Homo sapiens: one gene and its partner. The protein of the gene in region 1 interacts with the protein of each later gene in a biochemical or structural test. Each region holds a gene or a part of one and is shown in the gene's direction. Other genes may lie near its edges.

The links.
Region 2: the proteins of NHERF2 (region 1) and PTH1R interact in a test that uses a peptide from one of them, tested with the Homo sapiens proteins (2 studies listed by BioGRID and IntAct, with this or other methods).

What each region holds. Positions count from the first base shown.
Region 1 is NC_000016.10:2,036,861-2,039,638, forward strand, and holds the end of NHERF2 (Na(+)/H(+) exchange regulatory cofactor NHE-RF2), read left to right. Parts: coding exon 1-21; intron 22-94; coding exon 95-138; intron 139-677; coding exon 678-740; intron 741-896; coding exon of another isoform or gene 897-926; exon of another isoform or gene 927-965; coding exon 966-1,124; 3' UTR 1,125-2,166; downstream 2,167-2,778.
Region 2 is NC_000003.12:46,891,144-46,894,796, forward strand, and holds part of PTH1R (parathyroid hormone/parathyroid hormone-related peptide receptor precursor), read left to right. Parts: intron 1-2,763; coding exon 2,764-2,866; intron 2,867-3,653.

The sequences.
Region 1 (2,778 bases):
CCACCGAGGAGCACGTGGAAGGTGGGCCACGGCCCAGGGCACAGGGTGGGTGCGGTGTGGTGGCTGAGCAGCCACTGACACGCTGTCCCCACAGGTCCTCTGCCGTCACCCGTCACCAATGGAACCAGCCCTGCCCAGGTAAGAGGGTGGGGTGCCCATGAGACACAGGGTGCCTCTGGGGGTACCCAGGCCCGACAGAGGCCCCCTTCTCCCTGGAGATCCGTCCTCGAGGTGTGCTAGTGACACCCGATTTTAGCCCTGTCACCTCCCTTTAATGCCCCTGTGGGTCTCATCCTGGGTCGTGCCACACACAAGCCACGTGGGGCCCCTGGGGTCGGGGCCACTGCCTTCTGTCCTCTCCTGGGCACCACCTGGTAAGGAGTTGCCCTCCAGTCTCTGCCTCCTCAGGGAGCTGGCGGTGGCCTCACCCCAGGCGTTGCTCACGCCGGCCATTCCTGCACCTGAACCCCCTCTGCACCATGAGCCGGCCAGGCCACCTGCCTGTCACTGCCAGGCGCCCGGTGCCTGCCCCGCCGCATCTGGAGTCCACCAGAGGCCCGAGGCCCCCTGCCGAGTGGAGGAGCACACACTGGGGGGGGGTGTGCCTCTGTGCACATGTGTGCGTGTGCAGGTGTTGTGTGTGTCTGTGAAACCACAATCTGCCCTTGGTTTCCCAGCTCAATGGTGGCTCTGCGTGCTCGTCCCGAAGTGACCTGCCTGGTTCCGACAAGGACACTGAGGTATGGATGTTCTCCACTCCTGAGCTCACACGTGGGGTTGCTAGAGGCCTTGGGGTAGGCGTCTGTGGAGATGTCAGCCCGGGCAGTGGGGTCTCTGTTCAGGAAGTCCTCGTGAGCCCCAGCCCCAGCAGGCAGCCTCTGTTGGTTGCTCCCTAGGAGGGGCCACCGTCTGGGGTGTGGGACTAGGGCTCACTCCAGACACCCCACCCACCGTGCTCACCCCAGGATGGCAGTGCCTGGAAGCAAGATCCCTTCCAGGAGAGCGGCCTCCACCTGAGCCCCACGGCGGCCGAGGCCAAGGAGAAGGCTCGAGCCATGCGAGTCAACAAGCGCGCGCCACAGATGGACTGGAACAGGAAGCGTGAAATCTTCAGCAACTTCTGAGCCCCTTCCTGCCTGTCTCGGGACCCTGGGACCCCTCCCGCACGGACCTTGGGCCTCAGCCTGCCCCGAGCTCCCCCAGCCTCAGTGGACTGGAGGGTGGTCCTGCCATTGCCCAGAAATCAGCCCCAGCCCCGGTGAGCCCCCATCCTGCCCCTGCCCACCAGGTACTGGGGGCCTGTGGCAGCAAGATAGGGGGAGAGAGACCCAGAGATGTGAGAGAGAGTCAGAGACAGAGACAGAGAGAGAGAGAGAGAGACACAGAGAGAGACAGAGAGAGAGCGAGCGAGCGCGCGGCAGCCGCGGGGCGAGGGCCTTTGCTGCTCTGCCGGGGCCTGCTGACTGAAAGGAATTTGTGTTTTTGCTTTTTTTCCAAAAAGATCTCCAGCTCCACACATGTTTCCACTTAATACCAGAGACCCCCCCCCTTCCCCTCCCCCTTCCCCTCCCCCTTGGGACGCGCTCTAAATAATTGCAATAAAACAAACCTTTCTCTGCAAACCATTTCCTCCCCGCCCCCTCCCCTCAGCAGCGGCCGTCCTGAGTGGGAGTCCCTGGGACTTCCCAGTGGCCAAGTTGGGGCGCCCAGCCTCTTCGTGGGGACCTTGGGTAAGGCCAGGGAGGCCTGATGTGGCCGTAGGAGCTGCCCCTGCCCACCTGCCCTGGTGTGGGGGTCCCTAGGCCACACCCTGCTCCCCACCCAGCTACCCTGTGCGCCTGTGCCCTGCTGGGGGCCTGGGCTCTCCGAGGGGCCTGAGGATGGAGGCCCCACGTCCCCGAGGAGGGCGGCCTCTGGACAGGCCCCTCATTCCGCGCGGCAGCTCCCAGGCCTGGGGAACGTAGGTGTGTGAGAGCGGCACCCGGGAAGGACGCCTGGCCTCTGGCTCAGCCCTGCTTGGCGGGCTCCCCCGTGGACACCCTGTTGACTTTGCACTTCCCTCCCGGGCCCCGCACCCCCGAACCGACCACCGATCGACCGGCACCGCTGTTGCCTCGTAAGCCATAGCGCATGCGCGCTCTCAGGATAAACAGGCCCTGCCTGGGACCCACACGCCTCTGTCTTTTCTGAGCCTCCTCCCCGTGGGGTGAGAGGGGTGGAGGGATGAGGCTGTTTCAGGGAGCCCCCTCCCCGAGTCTCAGCAGCTGGAAACGGTCTCGTTCCTGAGCCCGTGCCCTGCATCCATCTGCTCCCAGCCCTGCTCCATCTCCCCCGCTGACCCCCATGGGACCCCCTGCTGTGTGGCACATCCTGGGCCCATGCCCATCTCTCTTATTTGGCAGACTCAGCCTCCCACCTTCACCTTCCCTGTGAAGCCATCCGGCCCCACACAACACCCACACGGGCCACCCTTTGCCCAATTCACCCTGCGACCTCTAGCAGTCACAGGTCAAGCTTTGTACCCTGTGGCGCCCTGCCTGGGTCCCCAGTGTCCCTTTCAAGGCCGGGTAGCTCTGTAAACAGGGGTGGGACCCTGGCAGAGGCTGGGCTTTGAGGGCATGAAAGTTCAGGAGCTGGCGGTGTCCGGGCTGGGAAGCTGGGGGGCCGGCGGTGGATAGCATGAGGGGCCAGGGTCCCCAGCCAGCTGCCCGGGGGCTGCTTGCTTCCCCAGCGGACTTCCAACAGCTGGCTGCAGCTGGCTCTCCCCACTTCCTCCCT
Region 2 (3,653 bases), on another chromosome or scaffold:
GGTGGGGCCACCACCCCTATGGATGAATGAAGGAGTGTGGGAGTCATGCGTGCTGGAAGCACATATCTTTCCCTCTCCTGAACATCCCAACTCCAGAAAAAGGGGTGTGCCTCCTCCTGGCCATGGAGAAGGTGAAGCCAACAGCTGGAGGTAGAGGCTGAGCCAATTCCTTGAGCCAGTGAGGGGTGTGTTGGTCAGCTTTCGGTGGTCAGGCTGCCCAATGGCCACTCAGTTTTCAACCCATGACTGCCTGCCTGCAGTCTAGGCCATCAGGGGTGACCCCCAGTCATATCAGTAGGCTGGTCTGTCTGTTGGGAGGCCCAGGGAGTCAGCAAGTCTCTAAGGATGTGTGGGAGCCTCCGTCAGTCACTCCAGAGCTCTCCATCAGCTGGAGAAAATACAGCACAATGGGTTTGTCTTGAGAGGGGTGGAGGTGGCAGAAGAAGAAGGATAGTGGGGAGGGGGTAAGACAACAAGATGGCAAAGGCAGTGTAGATGGTAGTTGTTGGGCAGGTGGCAGTATTGCTGATGGTGCTAATGTTGCCTTGGTGATGCTGGAGGTGGTGGCAGTGGTGCTGGTGCTGGTGATGTACCAGTTGTGATGGTGCAGATGGTGGTGATGGTGGTTATATGGATGGTTACAGTAGTGCTCATGGTGGTAACGGTGATGCCAGTGGTGGTGGTGGTAGTACTGGGAGGGACTGGTGATGCTGGTGTTGGTGTTAGTGACAGTAATGATGGTTATTGATGGAGGTACTAGCAGCAACGATGGAAATGGTAGTTAATGGGTGCTGTAAATGGAGTGAGGTGGACAGGGATCAGCCCCCTCACCAGCATGGATCCCCCATGTCAGAGGCACAGGGAGAGCTTCAGGTTAGTCTTGGAGGCCCCTGGATCCTGGCAAGTCCAACTTGTCCTCCCTTAAGCCATCCCATCATTCTGTGTCTACCTCTGCCCCAGCCAGCTCAGCCATAGCTGGGGAAGCAAAGAGACTAGGATAGAGGAGCTTAGGCCAGCCGCCAGCACGTGAGGATCTGCTCCAGCCCTTCCTGGGGTCCATAGTACCAGCGGAGATCTCAGGGTCCACCTCAGCCCCCAGAGACACCAGAAGCACGGGCCACCCACAGACGCAAAGGCTAAGGAGCTGCCGCCTCACTCACAGACGCACACACGCCGCCCTATGCCCAGAAATACATGTGCACGTGCATGCTCACAAACACGTCCGGCTCGCGTCCCATACTGACAGGCTGGACAGTCTCCATGTGAGAACGCGCACGGACGGGCACACACAAGTGCACGCGCCGGCCACTCGAGAATGCGCTGCCACTCGCGCGCGCACGCACAGGGACGCGCACGCGGCTCCGCTAAGTGGAACCAGCAGAACCCAAGGCCGGCCGAGCCAATTGGAGACTCCTTGGCCCTGGAAGCCCTCGCTGCTGCCGCCAAGAGACGCGGTCAATTAACTTCTCCCTGCAGCCAGGCTCTCTGACCCGGCCTGCCCGCCCCTCTCGCCGGTGCCCGCCCCATGCCCGACCCGCCTTCTTCCTCCCCTGCCTCCTCTGGGTCCTCCCGCCCTTCACAGCCATGCTCGGACTGCAGGGCCCCGGCCCCGCCTTGGCGCGTCTGAAGGATGCAGCTCTGCCGCGGAGCTGAGGAGACGTAGCCTTCTGGGGTAGGGATGGAGGGGGTCGTCTCAGGGGACATACCCCTGCCCAGGGGTCTGAGGAAACACGACCCTGAATTAAGAGGGATGGGGCTGAGGGCTTCACAGCCCCGCCCTGGGGAGGTTTCAGAGACCGCCTTAACCTCTGCGGGTCACATTCACGGGAATGGCTGGGCTAGGCACACCAGGCTGCTCCCAAGTCAGAGGACAGAGGCTGAGACCCCTCAGCAGCCACCTGCTCTGGGTGAGCCTCCACCCGCATGATATTTCATTTCCTTTCTTATAATGAGGCCAGTGAGTCCCGGTGGGTGGCAGCCAGGGCCCAGGGTGTGCAGGTTGGAGGGAAGGGAAAGGACATTCCAGGCAGAGAACAGCAGGAGTGAGGGCCTGAGTGTCATCAGAACTCCGAGTCTGGATGGAGGGAGCTCCCAGATAAGCAGTGGAATGAGAGGGACTCCCACCCCCAGCCAGCACCAGAGTGCCCAGCCCAACCCAGGCCGCATGCCAACAGTTCCTCCATCCTCTCTTTCTCTCTCTTGGGATTGTAAGGAGGGGAGGCATTGAGGCACTCACCGTTCACTGGGGACAGCATTGACTGGGGAGCTGGGCCAAGATGGAAACTGGTGACTCCCAAGACCCCCCAGGGTGCCAGGACTTGAAGGACTCCAGGCTGGGTTTGTCTCCCCACAGTTCACCACTCCTTATCCACCCCCTGCCCCCGACTCATGTCCCCAGCAGGCAGCCAGGATCCTGTGTGGATCCATCCTGGGACATTCCATTCCAGTCCCATGTACCCCTGGGGAAAGGACTGGACAGAGAATATCAGTGACTGCAGCCTACAGGGTTACTGGCGGGCAGGCAGGAGAGAGCCCCTGCTTTTTCCCTTCGATCAGGCAGGCCCTACCCCTCAGAGCCACAGCTTCCCATCTGTAAGGTGTGAGCTCCATAGAGCAGATTCCCCACATGCAGGGGAAATCCCACCTTCCCTCTAGAGTCAGGGCCTTTTGAAAGGGGGTAGTCCCTCTGGGAAATTGGGATGTCTCTGGGACCTGCTGCTGCGCCGGAAAGTCCTGCCTGTGGTCTGACCTTCGGCTTGGCAGGTGGATGCAGATGACGTCATGACTAAAGAGGAACAGATCTTCCTGCTGCACCGTGCTCAGGCCCAGTGCGAAAAACGGCTCAAGGAGGTCCTGCAGAGGCCAGGTGGGGGTCAAAGGAAGAGGGTCTGGGGATGAGGTCAGGTGAGGGAGGGGCCAGTCAAGGGCGGGACCCAGGATACAGAGCCAGGTGAAGGCTCTCTGTGGGGGCGGACTTAGGTAAAGGGGGCCAGGCCAAAGTGAGAACCAAAGTGGGGTGCGTGGTGCAAGAGTGGAGTCAGCAGGCTCGGGCATCCATGGCTTGTCCTAAGTCTCGAGCTCAGGTCCCTGTGTTGCCCACAACCAGCACTCAGACTGATAGCTGTCGGGTTAATCTCATCAACTGAAGAGGCCCAGACCCCAACTGACTGAAGGAGAGGAGCCGCTTCCTCCCCTGACAAGCCCTTAGGGTTCTGCAGGGGTTGAGGCTGGTGATCGCCCAGAACACAAGCACACAATGACAAACACACTCTGTGGCACACAGATTTTGCTCACACTCACAGAGACTCACATGGTCTCTGCAGTCACAGCCCCACCGATGCCAGCCCCAACAGTGGCTCCCAGTCACATCGAGATCTGGGGGGTCAGATGGGCCCCCTCATTCTGGGTCCTGAACCCAGCCCCTCTTCTTAATTGTGAAAGCCTGGAGGAGCCTCTCTTTGCCCCTCATCATCCACCATGGAGCCTCTCGCTTCCTACTGTACCCCACCCTGCTACCCACATCCCCACACTGAGGCCCGAGGGTGGAGGCAGGAAAATGAGCACAGTCATTCTCATCCCAGTCCAGGCTGCTTGGACTCAGCTTCCCATCATTGCCACAGACCCGACATGTAAGGACCAGGGGGGCCTAGCTT